Linked DNA regions of Homo sapiens: region 2 is linked to region 1. The links come from fine-mapping of genetic effects on gene expression. Tissue or cell type: whole blood. Region 1 holds a variant in brackets; the other region holds the start of a gene. All regions are shown on one strand. Distances are from middle to middle.

What was found. PIP is the estimated chance that this variant, and not a neighbour inherited with it, causes the effect.
Region 2: it holds the start of GADD45B, and the variant in region 1 is fine-mapped to the expression of GADD45B in whole blood (TOPMed, PIP above 0.99).

The regions. Positions count from the first base shown.
Region 1 is chr19:2,616,227-2,624,326 of GRCh38, reverse strand. All of the region lies in intron 2 of GNG7 (G protein subunit gamma 7), which reads left to right. Among named protein-coding and RNA genes, the nearest start is that of MIR7850, 10 kb to the left of the region's middle. RefSeq lists enhancers at 2,151-2,350, 3,230-3,529, 4,862-5,156. The variant G/C (reference allele first, on the strand shown) is at 3,938.
Region 2 is chr19:2,471,328-2,479,427 of GRCh38, reverse strand. It overlaps GADD45B (growth arrest and DNA damage inducible beta), which reads right to left and starts at 3,301. Exons shown (of 4, transcript NM_015675.4): 1 at 3,026-3,301; 2 at 2,798-2,899; 3 at 2,177-2,399; 4 at 1,171-1,940. The coding sequence starts at 3,069. The coding sequence ends at 1,827. RefSeq lists silencers at 1-480, 4,041-4,150, 4,521-4,660 and enhancers at 551-660, 1,051-1,100, 1,911-1,980, 2,001-2,060, 2,131-2,290 and 5 more.

The sequences.
Region 1 (8,100 bases):
CGATCTCCTGACCTCGTGATCCTTCCACCTCGGCCTCCCAAAGTGCTGGGATTACAGGCGTGAGCCACCGCGCCCGGCCCTTTCTTTCTTTTTTTAATTGTGGTAAAATATATGAAACATAGTATTTACCATCTTAGCCATTTCTAAGGGCTCAGTTCAGTGGCATTAAGCACATTTGCATGGTGCTGCACCCATCACCACCGTCATCTCCAGAACTTTCCATCTTCCCAGACTGAATCTCTGTCCCCGTGAAACACTTGCTCCCCGTCCCCTTCCCAGCCCTTGGCACCCCCCATCCTGCTTCCCTTGTACTGTTCGCTCATGTTCACAGCAGCCAAAAGGTGGAAGCAACTCAAGCGTCCATCAACAGATGGACTGTCTCTGTGAATCTGACGGCTCTAGGGACCTCCTAGGCGTGCAGTCACACAAGATTTGTCCTTTTCTTTTAGATGCAGTCTCGCTCTGTGGCCCAGGCTGGAGTGCAGCGGTGCGACCTCGGCTCACTGCAACCTCCGCCTCCCAGATTCAAGCAATTCTCCTGCTTCAGCCTCCTGAGTAGCTGGAATTACAGGCACCTGCCACTATGCCCGGCTAATTTTTGTATTTTTAGTAGAGATGGGGTTTCACCACATTGCCCAGGCTGGTCTCCAACTCCTGACCTCAAGTGATCCACCTGCCTTGGCCTCCCAAAGTGCTGGGATTAAAGGCGTGAGCCACCACACCTGGCCAATTTGGTTTTTTGTGTCTGGGTTCTCTCACTGAGCGTGACGTCCTCAAGGTGCATCCGTGTTGCAGCCTGTGTTGGGATTCCCTTCCTTTTCATGGCTGAGTAATATTCCATCATACAGATGCACCATGCTGTTTATCTGTCCATCTGTTGATGGACGCTTGGATTGATTGCTTCCACCTTTTGGGTGCTGTGAACATGAGTGAACAGTACAAGTATCTGTCCGAGCCCCTCCTTGCAATTCCTTTGGGTAAGGAACACCTTGTTTATTTGTTTTCTTGAGACCTGGTCTTGCTCTGTTGCCCAGGCTGGAGTGCAGTGGCACGATCACAGCTCACTGCAGCCTCAAATGCCCATGCTCAAGCGATCCTCCCATCTCAGCCTCCAAAGTAGCTGGGACTACAGGTGCACCACCACGCCTGGCTAATTATTTTTTTGTAGAGATGGGGTCTGGCTATGTTGCCCAGGCTTGGAACACCCCGTTTGTTCTGGGTTTGATACTACAGCCCAACCTGTGGTCACCTTTTTGCCTCCTGGGACACAGAAGAGCTCAGACTGAGCCTGGGTGTTGAGGACCTTAGCCGGAAAGTGGCTTCTCCCTCACCCACCCTCACTTGGCCACACACCCCCAGGAAGAAGGACCAATGTTTTCTATCAGTGGCCGTGCCCGGGGTGTCAGAGCTCTAGTGGTATAAATGATACACGGTGAAAGTGAAAACAAAGCCCTCCTCTCTGCCACGTTGCTCTCGCATTGAGCTCCCTTTCCCGGAAGCCCCCTCTCTGCCGCGTTGCTCGCATTGGGTTCCCCATCCCGGAAGCCTCCCTCTCTGCCGCGTTGCTCGCATTGGGTTCCCCATCCCGGAAGCCTCCCTCTCTGCCGCGTTGCTCGCATTGGGTTCCCCTTCCCGGAAGCCCCCTATCTGCCGCGTTGCTCGCGTTGGGTTCCCCTTCCCGGAAGCCCCCCTCTCTGCCGCGTTGCTCGCGTTGGGTTCCCCTTCCCGGAAGCCCCCCTCTCTGCCGCGTTGCTCGCGTTGGGTTCCCCTTCCCGGAAGCCCCCTCTCTGCCGCGTTGCTCGCATTGGGTTCCCCTTCCCGGAAGCAGCTGGTGTTGCCAGTTTCGGGGGCTTTCCCTGGAGATGGGCTGAATCCCCAGCCCTCATTACTGACCATTGACTTCTGCAGGGCTTATCCCGCACCCTTTGCAAGCTTAAAAACCACCAGGAGCCGGGCGCGGTGGCTCATGCCTGTAATCCCAGCACTTTGGGAGGCCGACACAGGCGGATCACAAGGTCAGGAGATCGAGACCATCCTGGCTAACATGGTGAAACCCCGTCTCTACTGAAAATACAAAAAATTAGCCGGGTGTGGTGGCGGGCGCCTGTAGTCCCAGCTACTCAGGAGGCTGAGGCAGGAGAATGGCGTGAACCCGGGAGGCAGAGCTTGCAGTGAGCCGAGATCTCGCCACTGCACTCCAGCCTGGGTGACAGAGCAAGACTCCGTCTCAAAAGAGAGAGAAAAAAAAAAAAAGTTGATGAGGGTTTTGGGCAGGCAGAGGGAATCGAACTCACTCCTCCGTGGTGATCAGCATGAAGGAAGGGGAGAGAAAAGGGGCAGACGAGCCTCTTGTGGCTGCCATAACAGGTGACCACAGACCCGGAAGTATCAATCCGCAGACGTGTGTCCTCTCACGGTTCTGGAGGGCAGAAGTACTAAACCAAGCTGTCTGCAGAGCTGTGCTCCCCTGGGCGCTACAGGAGAGGATCCTTCCGCGTCCTCTGGCTTCTGGGGGCTCTGGCAAACCTGGCTTGTGCTTACCGTCGAATTGCTCCAGTCTCTGCTTCTGTTTTCTGCTGTCTCTCTGTGTCTCCTTCTTTGTTTTTGTTTGTTTGTTTGTTTGTTTGTTTTAGATGAGGTCTTGCTCTGTCACCCAGGCTGGAGTGCAGTGGTGCCATCTTGGCTCACTGCAACCTCTGCCTCCCAGGTTCAAGCAATTCTCCTGCCTCAGCCTCCCGAGTAGCTGGGATTACAGGCGCGCACCAACACGCCCGGCTAACTTTGTGTTTTTAGTAGAGATGAGGTTTGTCCATGTTGGTCAGGCTGGTCTCGAACTCCTTATCTCAGGTGATCTGCCCACCTCGGCCTCCCAAAGTGCTGGGATTACAGGAGTGAGCCACTGTGCCCAGCCATTTTTCTTTAATTAATTTTTTGTGTCTGGAGTCTTGCTGCTGTGTTGCACAGGCTGGAGTGCAGTGGCAGCATCATAGCTCACTGCAGCCCTGAAATCCTAGGGCTCAAGCAATCCTCCCGCCTCAGCTTCCCGAGTAGCTGGGACCACAGGTGTGGACCACCACATCCAGCTTCAACATAAGTTTTAAGCAAATGCAATTAGTCCGTAACAGTCATTTTCCGAGGTTCCCCGTGGACAAGAATTTTGAAGGGACGTCACTAAACCCCTTGCAAGGGAAGTGAGCTTTACTCAGGTCTCAGGAAGCTCCTGGGGTGTGCAGGAAGGGGCGAGGTCACCCCAGGAGGAAGGCGCTGTGCTAAGGAAAGGTGACTGTTGATGGGGCCCCCGTTTGCAGAAACCTGTATGAGTCGTACCACCTCTGTGTAATCTGCCACCTTCAGAGCGCCTGCAGGAAGGCGGCCACGTCACCCCTTTTATAAATGAAACTGGAAGCTCAGGCTGGGAAACCCAAGGTCACAGAACCCAGCCTCAAAGGCAGCCAGCATTTCCACCGCAGGAGTCTGTTCTCTGCACAGAGCTGTCTTGCTCTGTTGCCCGGAGCCAGAGTGCAATGGCACGATTTCGGCTCACTGCAACCTCCACTTCCCGGGTTCAAGCAATTCTCCTGCCTCAACCTCCCAAGTAGCTGGGATTACAGGCGCACAACACCACGCCCAGCTAACTGGCCGACCCACGTTGGCTGGGGGTGCTGACGGCATAAGCTCACCCCTAGGTCCCTCTAGGGTGGCCGATGACAGGACCCTAAGAAGCTCACCCCCAGCTGGGATGTTTCGTTGAAAATCTTCTCTTTTGCCTTTAGTTGCTTGAAAACATTGGACTCATACCCAAGAGCTTTCTAATTGGTTTCGATAGGAAACGGTTCTGAGGTTTCGCCTTTTTTAATATCCTGTTGGTCTGAGACTGGAGTGGCCCCTGGGGTGGCAGGTTTCCCGGTGCATGGGCCCAGCTCTGGTGTGTGGGTTG[G/C]GGGATCAGGACAGAGGTTTGTGAGGGGGGCAGTGACCTGCCTGCAGAGAGAGGGGTCGGGACGACGGCCTGTAGCCAGGGTGCAGGGGGATCTGCCTTTCTTTCATTCTACAGGGTCCTCTCCTCTCCCCTCCCCTCCCCTCCCCTCCCCTCCCCTCCCCTCTCCTCTTTTCTTTTCTGTTTTTGAGACAGAGTTTTGCTCTTGTTGCCCAGGCTGGAGTGCTATGGCGCGATCTCGGCTCACTGCAACCTGCAACCTCTACCTCCCGGGTTCAAGCAATTCTCCTGCCTCAGCCTCCCAAGTAGCTGCGAATACAGGCGCGCACCACCATGCCTGGCTAATTTTGTATTTTTAGTAGAGACGGGGTTTCTTTATGTTGGTCAGGCTGGTCTTGAACTCCCGACCTCAGGTGATCCGCGCCCCCCCCTCGTCCTCCCAAAATGCTAGGATTAGCTTTATTGAGATATAACTGACACAGCGTAAAACTCACCCTTTAAAAATGTGCAGCTCAGCGGTTTTTACATTCACAGAGTTGTGCAACCATCTCCTTTATCTAATTCCGGAACATCCTATCACCCCCAAAAGAAGCCCTGTCCCCCATGAGCAGTCACTCCCCATCTCCCCCCGGCAGCCCTGCCACACACGCATCCCCTCCCTGTCCCCATGGATGGGCCTGTCCTGGACATTTCGTAGAAATGGGATCACACACTGCGTGGCCCTCTGTCTCTGGCTCCTTTCATAGAGTGTGATGTCCTCAAGGTCCATCCACACTGTGGCCGGCATCAGAGCCTTGTTCCTTTTCATGGCTGAGTCCTGCTCCATGGTGGCGTTTGCTGTACCAGGTGGGACAGAATGGACATTTCAGTGGTCCTCCGATGTCTGACCTTGCCCTTCACCCTGATTAGGGCTCAGCCTTACTATAAACAAATACTTGCTATGAACTTACTATGTGCGAGGCCTGGGGTAGCAAACTTTTCTGCAGAGATCCAGATGGCAAATGTTTTAGCCTTTGCAGGCTGGACAGTCTCTGCCTGCCATTGTAGCGGGAAAGCCACCACAAGCAATATGTCAACAAGTGGGTGTGGCCGTGTGCCAATAAAACTTTATTTACAAAAACACACAGTCAGCTAGATGTGGTCCAGGGGCCGTAGTTAGCTAACCCCTGGCTTAGGACAAAGGTTCTCAAACTCTCTGGTCCTGACGATTATTCCAAGGAGCTTTTGTTTATATGCCTTCTACTTACGGATATTTGTTGAATTTGAAATCAAAACTGAGAAAATGTCAATCAAATAGGTATTCATTCATTTTAAAATAGCAATTATAAGCTCTCAGGGTAGCCAGAATGACATTTTTTGTTTGTTTGTTTTTCATGGATAGTAACCGTTTTCTTAAAGAGACAAACAAAAAAGTTCATGGAAATACCAAAGAAAGACCAAGAAACTGAGAGCCCAGAGGAACCCACGGAGATGGGACGGTCAGATGCCACATGGGCTCCTGGATGGGGTCACAATGGGGCAGGAAAGGTCGTGAGGGGAAAACTGAGGGAAGCTGAATCGCTGTGGCATTTGGTTACTAGGAAGGTGCCAGCGTTCCCCAGCTGTGAGCAATGCCCTGTGGTTACACAGGGTGGCCCCTGAAGAGGAAGCTGGTGAGGCGTGGGCGGGGACTCTCTCTTTGCAACTTTCCTGTAAATCTAAAATTACTCCAAATAAAATTGTTTATTAAAAAAAAAATAGAACAGGCTGGGCACGGTGGCTCACGTCTGTAATCCCAGCACTTTGGGAGGCCGAGGCGGGTGGATCATTTGAGGTCAGGAGTTCGAGACCAGCCTGGACAACATGGCGAAACCCCGTCTCCACTGAAAATACAAAAATTAGGTGGGTGTGGTGGCACGTGCCTGTAATCCCAGCTACTTGGGAGGCTGAGGCAGGAGAATCGCTTGAACAGGGGAGGTGCAGGTTGCAGTGAGCTGAGGTTGCACCACTGCACTCCAGCCTGGGCAACAGAGTGAGATACACACACACACACACACACACACACACACACCACACACATACAGGTAGAAAAGAGAAAAATGTGGCTGAGAGCTTTGCAAGGGGCATGGGTGAGGAGTAATCTGTGTCCTCAGTGCCCTGGGGTTGGCAGGGATTTGGGCAAGATGGAGAAGCTGGTGAGTGGAAGAGTAGATGGAAGGCCAACCCGTCGGTCAGTCGCAAATATTGACCCGACACTCACTGTGTGCCAGGGACAGCCTAGGTGCTGGGGGCCCAGCCTGATACAGGTGGAATCAAGTCCTGTTCTCAGGGAGCATGTGTCACACAGAGACAGCACATGCCCAGACACACTGGCAAACCAAACAGAGGGTCTTAGAAGATAAGGAAATAGTCACGCCTGTAATCTCAGCGCTTTGGGAGGCCGAGGTGGGAGGATCACTTGAGGCCAGGAGTTTGAGACCAGCCTGGGCAACATAGCAGGACCGTATCTCTACAAAACATTTAAAAAATTAGCCGGGCATGGTGGTGCACACCTGTAGTTCCAGCTGCTCTGGAGGCTGAGGTAGGAGGATCACTTGAGCCCAGGAGGCTGAGGTTGCGGTGAGCTGTGACTGCACCACTGCACTCCAGCCTGGGCAACAGAGCAAGACCCTATCTCAAAAAAAAAAAAAATAAAAAGGAAAAGACAAAATAGGATGAGGTGGCACCAAGAGGAGAGAGTCTGTGCCACGTGGTGTCCAGGAAGGTCTCTAAGGAGGGGACATCCTTGCCAACCCCTGCAGGATGGGGAGGAGCATTGAAGGCAGGAGGAAGGACATTCCGGAGGGCTCCCTGGAAGCGGAGGTCTGGGAGCCACGGGAGGGGACCCAGGCCAGGTCTTTGAGGGCTGGAGGTGGAGAGGAGGATGGGGAGAAGAACAGTCTGAAGCATCATGGCAGAATGTCCTTGGTCTGAGGTGACCTAGTGTGGCTTCTTGATCAGATTGATGGGGTCCTCAGAGCTCACAGCCCAAGGCAGGGTCAGAGCTGCAGGGCTGGGCCGGGCTCAGTGCCTGGATGGCTGGTGAGCTCTGCCTCCCTGAAAGATCCAGTTTCTGGTCCAGGCCAGCGGTTCTTAAGTGGGACAGGTTTGCCTCCAGGGGACTCTGGGTGATATCTGGGGACATCTGTGGTTGTCACGACTGGAGATGCTCCTGGCATGGAGTGGGTGGGGGTCAGGGACGCCACTCAGCACCCTGCAGTGCACCAGGATGGCCCCATCCCAGAGAATGATCCAGCCCTGAACGTCAGAGACTTTGGGTTAACGGAATGTAATTAGGCTGAAATAAGCTAAAGTTTTTCCGATAGTCACGTGCTGGGCAGCACACTGGTGGAAGGCTGGTGCAAAGCTTTCATGCCAGAACCTTCTGATTCCAAGACACTTTCATTCACAGTCACCTGCATGACCAGGGAGGCGGAGCTGCACTTATCCCGTGACCCCAGATGAGGAAACAGTCAGAGGAAGAGGCGGGCAGAACCCGGGCCCCACTGCTCTTGGCAGCTCTTGGAAACATCCTCCCCTAGGGCCCTGGTCACCAGCCTTGCCCAAGAACCCACCAGCTATATTTGTCTGGTTTTTTTTTTTGAGATGGGGTTTTGCTCAGGCTGGAGTGCGATGGCGTGATCTCGGCTCACTGCAACCTGCAACCTCTGCCTCCCGGGTTCAAGCAATTCTGCCTCAGCCTCCTGAGTAGCTGGGATTACAGGCACCCGCCACCATGCCCGGCTAATTTTGTATTTTTAGGAGAGACGGGGTTTCTCCCTGTTGGTCAGGCTGGTCTCAAACTCCTGACCTGAGGTGATCCGCTCGCTTTGGCCTCCCAAAGTGCTGGGATTATAGGCATGAGCCACCACACCCAGCCTTTCTTTGTTTGTTTTTTAATAGAGATGGAGTCTCTAGCCTGGCTAACATGACAAAACCTCATCTCTACTAAAAATACAAAAATTAGCTGGGCACGGTGGCACACGCCTGTAATCCCAGCTACTCGGGAGGCTGAGGCAGGAGAATCGCTGGAACACGGGAGGCAGAGGTTGCAATGAGTCGAGATCGTGCCATTGCACTCCAGCCTGGGCAGCAGAGCGAGACTCCGGCTCAAAATAATAATAATAAATTAGAGATGGGGTCTCACT
Region 2 (8,100 bases), 140 kb after region 1:
CTCCCGGGGTTTCCCTGTTGGTTCAGGGCTGTGGGGGATTCCCCTTCCCCTTCTTGGGCTCCCCTCTCCCCACTTCAGTTCTCCCCTCCTCCTAGCCCCAGGCGGGATCCTCTCCCCTCCCCGCTTCTCCCTCTGGGACTTCCCCCTCCTTCTCTCTCTCCCTCCCCCGTCGGGGCTCCCCCGATCCCCGTGACTCCTAGGGAGCCGCTGGGGTTTTCCTCATGCGCCCACGTGAGGCTCCGTGGAAAGGTCGCGGCCTGCGGGCAGGACCACCCCACCCCCTCCCCACTCCCCCCTAGTTCCCAGGCTTGGGGGCTGCAGGGCAGAGGGGAACCGAGGTCGTCCCGGCGCCTGGCCAGGGCGGGCCCACTCTGCAGACCCGGGGCGGGAAGACTGAGGCCGGGCACGGAAGGGCTGGGCCACGCTCCCAGCCCGGGGCAGGGGGAGTCACCACCGCGCCTGCAACTTTGGGAGAAGTAGGAGGTGGCTGGCCAGGGCTCGCAGTTTCGGTTTACAGGCAAAACGCAGCACTGCGCCAAGCCCGGCTGGCCCGGAGGCCGACTTCCTGGGGTATTTTTCTGCTTGTTGATTTTAGTTTGCGGAAATAAAAAAAGTTTTTTTCTTTAGTGCAAAAGAGAGGCCTATCCTGGGATGGAGAAGGCTGTGGTGGGCTGGGGGGGCACTCCCTGGGGAAGCCTCCAAAAGCGCTCTTCCTTGCAAGCCCTGAGCTCACCTCGCTGTGTGGTACCAGGTGCCCCCTTGACCGATCCGGACCTTGGGCTGCGGTGGCCGCCTAGGCGGTCAGGGGCTGCAGCCAGCACCCCCTCCCGCTGAAATGCCTCCATATGTGCCCAGAGCTTGGGGTTGGCTCCTGCACAGCCAGTAACAGTGGTGGCACGGCGGCCAGGTTTCGTAATAAACCGGTCTCTTAATTGCTGCAGGGTAGGAGGAGAAGGAAAAAAAAAAAGAGGCATAGATTTGTTGGAGTCGGTGGCGGCGCCTGCTGCGGAGAGAAGGGGTACTGTTTCTGCACGGGAGCCTGGAGCTGCTAACAGGGGCTTAAGTAACACTTCCTGGTGAGCTGGCGGGGGTTGTGGGGGGTGAAGCGTGTCCCCGGGGAGGGGGCAGGGGTCCTAGTTGTTCTAGAAGCCGAAAACATACAAGCAACCAGAGGCTTTAGAAATTTATTACAAGGCCCTCATAGTAGAAATAAAAATATAGATATCTATGCTTCCCATCTCGCTCTCAGTGGTTCGAATAACAAGTGCAAGTAACAAAATAGATTGTCTCTATAATTCGCAAACTGGGAGTTCATGGGTACAGAGCAACTTCAGCCCCAGCTCCCAAGTCCCAAAGTGTGGTCTTGTCGAGGGTGCAGACAAGGACCAACCAAGTTCAACCAAGTCTCTCGTATGCAGACGCCAGCTCCAGTCTCAAGGAGGGTGGGGCTTGCAGTCAGTCTCACTCCACCCCCGAGTGGACAGTCTGGACCCTCCGTGATGGGGAAGGCGGCAGCGTGCCCCGCCACTCCGGCTTCTGCTCCATCCCAAGGCCTCAGCTTCGGGGGTCCTGTCTCCTGCTGGCCTGGGTCCCCCCTTCTCCATCGGATCGGCGGCCGCCAGCTCCTGGATCTCCGCCCTGGGGGCGGCCGCTCACTCCCCTTCTCCTCCTCCTCTTCCTCTTCAGTCTCCAACGACTCTGCCCCCGATGGTCCTCGTGGGTTGGGTTGTTTTGGGGGGGTTGTGCTGGGGGGGAGGGGGTTCAAATATTTATTGTATTTTTTGTTTGTGGCAGCAACTCAACAGATTCTGCTGCTGGGAAGGGCCTCAGCGTTCCTGAAGAGAGATGTAGGGGACCCACTGGTTGTTGCCCCGGCTTTCTTCGCAGTAGCTGGCCACCTCCACCAAGCCGTGGCTCTTCCAGGCGTCCGTGTGAGGGTTCTGTAGGAGGGAAAAGAAGGGGTTTAGTGGAGCCTCCCTCTCCCGGGGCCCCTGTGTGGGGAAAACAGTCAGGCTCAAAATAGCTTCCTGGGTGAGGAGGCCCCAGCCCGGCTGCCCACGGGACATGCCAAACGTGGCTGAGCGCTGAGCTGTGCAGGACCAGTCAGCCCGACTTTGTTGACAAACACCGGCCCAGGTGCCCGGGCGTGGCGGGGCAGGGCAGAGGCCCGACTCACCGTGACCAGGAGACAATGCAGGTCTCGGGCCTCGGTGGTGCCCTGGGTCTCGGCCGGCTCTCCCAGGAGCTGCGCCAGGCGCTGCATGCCCGACACCCGCACGATGTTGATGTCGTTGTCACAGCAGAAGGACTGGATGAGCGTGAAGTGGATTTGCAGGGCGATGTCATCCTCCTCCTCCTCGTCAATGGCCAAGAGGCAGAGGACCACGCTGTCTGGGTCCCTGAGGGGGCCAAAGGGTAGGGATGGGTCAGCCGGGGACAGGGGAGGGGCCACCGTGCAGGGGGAGTTTGCAAAAAAGGAGCGTGCAAGAGCAAAAGAGAAACTGCAAGGGTGCAGGGGATTGCCTCTGCAAGCTGGTGACGGTGGGGGGAGGGGAGGGCACACGGTTCAAAGTATGGGGTAGGGGGAGACAGGCCCACGGCGGGAGGGGTGTTTGCAGACGATACATCAGGATACGGCAGCCCCCGATCCACAAAACGGCAGAGAAGCTCTGCATCCACAGCGGGGGGCACTTGGGGAAGTCCCAGCTCCATGCAAGACAAGCGTGCGGAAAGCGTCCAGAGCGGAGGGGAGGTCCCGTCCCACCCGCGCCCAGCCCGGGAAGGGGGTCTGACTCACACATTCATCAACTTGGCCGACTCGTACACCCCCACTGTGAGGCGATCCTGGCGCTGAGCGGCCACCAAAAGCTCCTCCACCGCGGCGGTCACCGTCTGCATCCTGAGACCAGGAAAGAGGGATCAGTGACGGGCGGACCACCGGGTGCTACGTTCCGCTCCCGGCCCGGCCCAACCCGACCCATCCCGTCCCGGCTGACCTCAGGCGGCGGCAGCCCCGGCTACTTACTTCTGCGCCGCGTTGTCGCACGCCACGAGCTCTTCCAGCGTCATGTTGCAATTATAATCCACAGTGGATGCGGCTCCACGGCAGTCCCCAGGGAGAAATTGCAAAATCCGAGCCAGAGAGCCCAAAACCTTCCCACAGAGCTAGAGCGCTCGTCCAAGACCTTCGGGAAGCAGCGAAATCCTTCCAGAAAAGGCGGAAAAATATATTGCAAAGTCCTTGGCGAGGATAATCCAGGAAGTTGCGGAAACCAACGGTAGTCCGACGCTTCGGCGATCTGAGCTGGGAGCCTCCGGCACCGACTTTTATAGACTTGAACATTGGGCGTGGCCTCAGTGGAGTCATTCGCCCCTCCTATTGGTGGAAAGACAAGGGCGAGTGCAGCTAGCTCTGCGGTTGGCCGACGGAGGGGAGGGGGAGGAGCGGCGTGCGGGGGCGCCCCACGTGGGGGCGAGAACCGGGAGGAGGGCGCGCGGGGGCCGGGTAGGTGACCGCGAATGCCAGAAAAGAAAAAAAAGCAGAAGTTTTTTTCTCCTGATTTCCCGGCAGCCGAGCCGCGGTTCGGGGCGCGCGCGGGATTTCCAGCGCGCGAGGCGGCCCGGACTTTCGGGGGGGCCTGGAATCCCCTCCCGATCCGCGGAGAGTCCCGGACCGCGCCTTTCCCAAGTTCTGCTGGGGGTGGAGGGGCTGCACCGGGAAGGGGCCCCGTTTGCAGCGTGATCTCGCCCAGGTGGTGGTGAGGGCCGGAGTCTCTCCTGGCTGCGACGACCCCAGCCCCTGGGTGATTTCGCTTCTCCCGGCCTCTCTGTTCCCGTCTGAGTAATGGGTCTGCAGCGCCGGCCTCGCTGGTTTGCAGAGCATGGCATAAAATACGGCTGACAGTAAGAGCCCAATACACATCAGCTGTCACCTGGTGGTCGCGGGAGGCCTCCTCGAGGGCCCCGAAAGTGGGAGGTTGCAAAGCCCGGGGCGCTCTGGAGAAGAAAGTGGGCGCCTCCTCGCCGACCCCGCGAGTATCAGGGTGGGGTGCGCGTGGGAGGTGCAGGTGGCGCGGCCCCGCCCCCGCCGGCTGCCTGGCGTTCCAGCCTTTGCCCGTGCGGAGGCCTCCAGGCCCTGGAGAAAGCCATTGTTGAGGGGAATGGTGCAGGCTCCGGCTGCACGCCGCCACCCAGGGCCCACGTGCAAGGATGACGGCTACTTTTATTTCTCACTCCGGGGTGGGCGCTGACCTGCATTGAGTGCGTGGTGCGGACCTGGTACCCCCCACCCCTCCGGATTCATGGATGATTTAATCCAAGACCTGGGAAGCAGGGGGGATGCTTATGTGCATTATGCAAAAGGGGAAACTGAGGCTTGGTGAGGCCATAGGCTAGTTCGTGTTGGAGCCACGCGTGTGCGCCAGGCACGGCCGCCTGCAGGACTCCGCCGCCCCGGGAAGGCTGTTCAGGAGCGAGGCTGGCAGGCCCCGCATGACAACGTCTCCCACGGTCGACTGGGGGCTCCCGGGTGACTCACATCTGAGTCCCCTCCCCCGCCAGCCTGGGGTCTGGCCTCCGCCCGGCGGCTCACTTTCCCCAGTTGCCCGGCTCCCCGGCCCGCGGGTCCGGCTGACGCATCCCACCTCCTCCGCGCCGCCCACCGCTGGGGCACGAAATGTCCCGGGGCTGCGAGGCGCGGTGGCGCCATCTGGTGGCCGCGCCGAGTTTCTGCGCCCTCAGCGCCGGAAGAGAGGGACGGACGGGCGGGGCACTGGGCTGGAGGCGGGGGATAAGGGGACCGTGGCGGTTGCAACGTTTTATGTAACTTTATGCAATGTTTTACGCATGCAACATACATATTTATATTTTATAATTTCAATTTAAAAGTTAAATCGGCCGGGCGCGGTGGCTTACGCCTGTAATCCCAGCACTTTGGGAGTCCGAGGCGGGCGGATCAACTGAGGTCAGGAGTTCGAGACCAACCTGACCAACATGGCCAACATGAGCTGAAGATAAGGAAGATCAGGGAGGTGGGTGGGATAAGTGCAAAGTCAGATTCTGTCTTTATTTACAATTTTGATATTTTGTTCCTCATGGATACTTGGGCATTGATTTTGATTTTTAAAAAGTATTGCAGGCTGGGTAATCCCAGCACATTAGGAGGCTGAGGCGGGCAGATCGTGAGGTCAGTTCGAGACCAGCCTGACCAACATGGTGAAACCCTGTCTCTACTAAAAACACAAAAATTAGCTGGGCGTGGTGGCACGCGCCTGTAATCCCAGCTTACTCAGGAGGCTGAGGCAGGAGTATCACTTGAACCCAGGAGGTGGAGGTTGCAGTGAGCCGAGATCATGCCACTGCACATGGCATGGTGACAGAGAGAGACTCCATCCTCCCCAAAACAAACAAACAAACAAACAAACAAACAAAAAGGCCGGGCACGGTAGCTCACTCCTGTAATCCCAGCACTTGGGGAGTCTGAGGCAGGAGGATCACCTGAGGCTGGGAATTCAAGACCAGCCTGACCAACCTGGAGAAACCCCATCTCTACTAAAAATACAAAATCAGTCGGGCGTGGTGGCACATGCCTGTAATCCCAGCTACTCTGGGGGCTGAGGCAGGAGAATTGCTTGAACTTGGGAGGCAGAGGTTGCAGTAAGCCGAGATTGCAGTGAGCCGAGATCGTGCCACTGCACTCCAGCCTGAGTGACAGAGTGAGACTCAGTCTTTAAAAAAAAAAAAAAGAAAGAAAGAATGGGGTGTGTTGTGTGCACCCAGCTACTCCGGAGGCTGAGACAGGAGGATCACTTGAGCCCAGGGGTTCCTGGCTGCAGTGAGCCGGGATTGCACAGTTGCATTCCAGCCTGGGCAACAGAGTGAGACCCCGTCTCAAATAAATAAATAAAATAAGGGCTGGGCACGGTGGCTCATGCCTGTAATCCCAGCACTTTGGGAGGCTGAGGCAGGTGGATCATCTGGGGTCAGGAGTTCAAAACCAACCTGGCCAACATGGTGAAACCCCGTCTCTACAAAAAATACAAAAATTACCTGGGCATGGTGGCACATGCCTATAATCCCAGCTACTCGGGAGGCTGAGGCAGGAGAATCGCTTGAACCCGGGAGGTGGAGGTTGCAGTGAGCCGAGATTGCACCACTGCATTCCAGCCTGGGAGACAGAGCGAGACACTGTGTCAAAAATAAAGCAAATAAAATAAATAAAATAAGGCGAGCAAAGCAGGGCCTCAGAGAATATGTGTCCAAGTCCTTCTTCCGTGTGTCCCCCGTGCCAGCCATAACAACCTCCTCTGCGAGAGGCCCAGCCTTTGTCAGCTGTTTCCTCCGCCTGGGATGCTGTCTTCCTCTGGTCTTCAGCAGGAAAACCCTACTCCTCTGTCAACACTGACTTGGCCTTGTTTTCTCCCAGACTGACTGCCTGGACCCCCATGGTCCTCCACCCTCCAGGCTTCTCTTTCTAGACCCCAAGCCCACCTGTGCCTCCTTTTTCCAGCCCTGGCTCCAGGCATCTTAGAATATCTGGAGTATCTTGGAATATCTTCAAGAGACTCTGAGCTCTGTGCCTTTGAGCTCAGAAAATGAGCTCCAGCCGGGCCAGGCGTGGTGGCTCATGCCTGTAATCCCAGCATGTTGGGAGGCCGAGGCGGGTGGATCACCCGAGGTCAGGAGTTCAAGACCAGCCTGGCCAGCATGGTGAAACTCCATCTCTACTAAAAATATAAAAATTAGCCAGGCATGGTGGCGCATGCCTGTAGTCCCAGCTACTCAGGAGGCTGAGGCAGGAGAATCGCTTGAACTCGGGAGGTGGAGGTTGCAATGAGCCGAGATCGTGCCACTGCACTCCAGCCTGGACAACAAGAGTGAGACTCTTTCTCAAAAAAAAAAAAAAAAAGAAAATGAGCTCCAGCCTCAGTTTCTTTCTCTGTAAGATGGGAACAGTCACACAAAGGCTTCATCACAGGCATTGAAGGAGGAAATTCCCAGAATCAGGTAAGCACTCAGGAAATGTGTGCTATTATCTTTGGGCTGGGCGCCAGAACTCACCTCTGTAATCCCAGCACTTTTGGAGGCCGAGGCAGGAGGATTGCTTGAGCCCAGGAGTTTGAGACCAGCCTGGGCAACATAGGGAGACCCCATCTCTACAAAAATTTTAAAAATTAGCCGACCGTGGTGGTGCGCACCTGTAGTCCCAGCTACGTGAGAGGCTGAGGTGGGAGGATCACTTGAGCCTGGGAGTTTGAGGCTGCAGTGAGCTATGATTGTGTCGCTGCACTCCAGCCTGGGCAACAGAGGGAGACCCTGTGTCTAAAAATAAAATAAAATAAAAAATGAGATCAATAACAGTGTCGCCGAGGCCATCTTGGAGCCTGAGGTGAGAGGAATAATCAGTATGAGTAATCCTGTCATAATCTTTTTTTTTTTTTTTTTTTTTAGACAGAATCTCGCTCTGTCACCCAGACTGGAGTGCAGTGGCGCAATCTCAGCTCACTGCAACCTCCACCTCCTGGGTTCAAGTGACTCTCCTGCCTCAGCTTCTCAAGTAGCTAGGACTACAGGCGCCCTCCACCACACCTAGCTAATTTTTTGTATTTTTAGTAGAGACAGGGTTTTGCCATGTTGGCCAGGCTGATCTCGAACTCCTGACCTCAAATGATCTGCCTGCCTCGGCCTCCCAAAGTGTTGGAATTACAGGCGTGAGTCACCGTATTTGGCTTTAAACAAAATAAATTTTTAAAATTTTATCCAGCATAGAGGTTTTTGCATTCATTCAGAGTTAAAAAAAAAATGTGGCCGGGTGTGGTGGCTCACGCCTGTAATCCCAGCACTTTGGGAGGCTGAGGTGGGCAGATCACGAGGTCAGGAGATCGAGACCATCCCAGCTAACACAGTGAAACCCTGTCTCTACTAAAAATACAAAAAATTAGCCGGGCGTGGTGGCGGGCGCCTGTAGTGCCAGCTACTCAGGAGGCTGAGGCAGGAGAATGGTGTGAACCCAGGAGGTGGAGCTTGCAGTGAACCGAGATCGCGCTACTGCACTCCAGCCTGGGTGACAGAGCAAGACTCCATCTCAAAAAAATAAGTAAA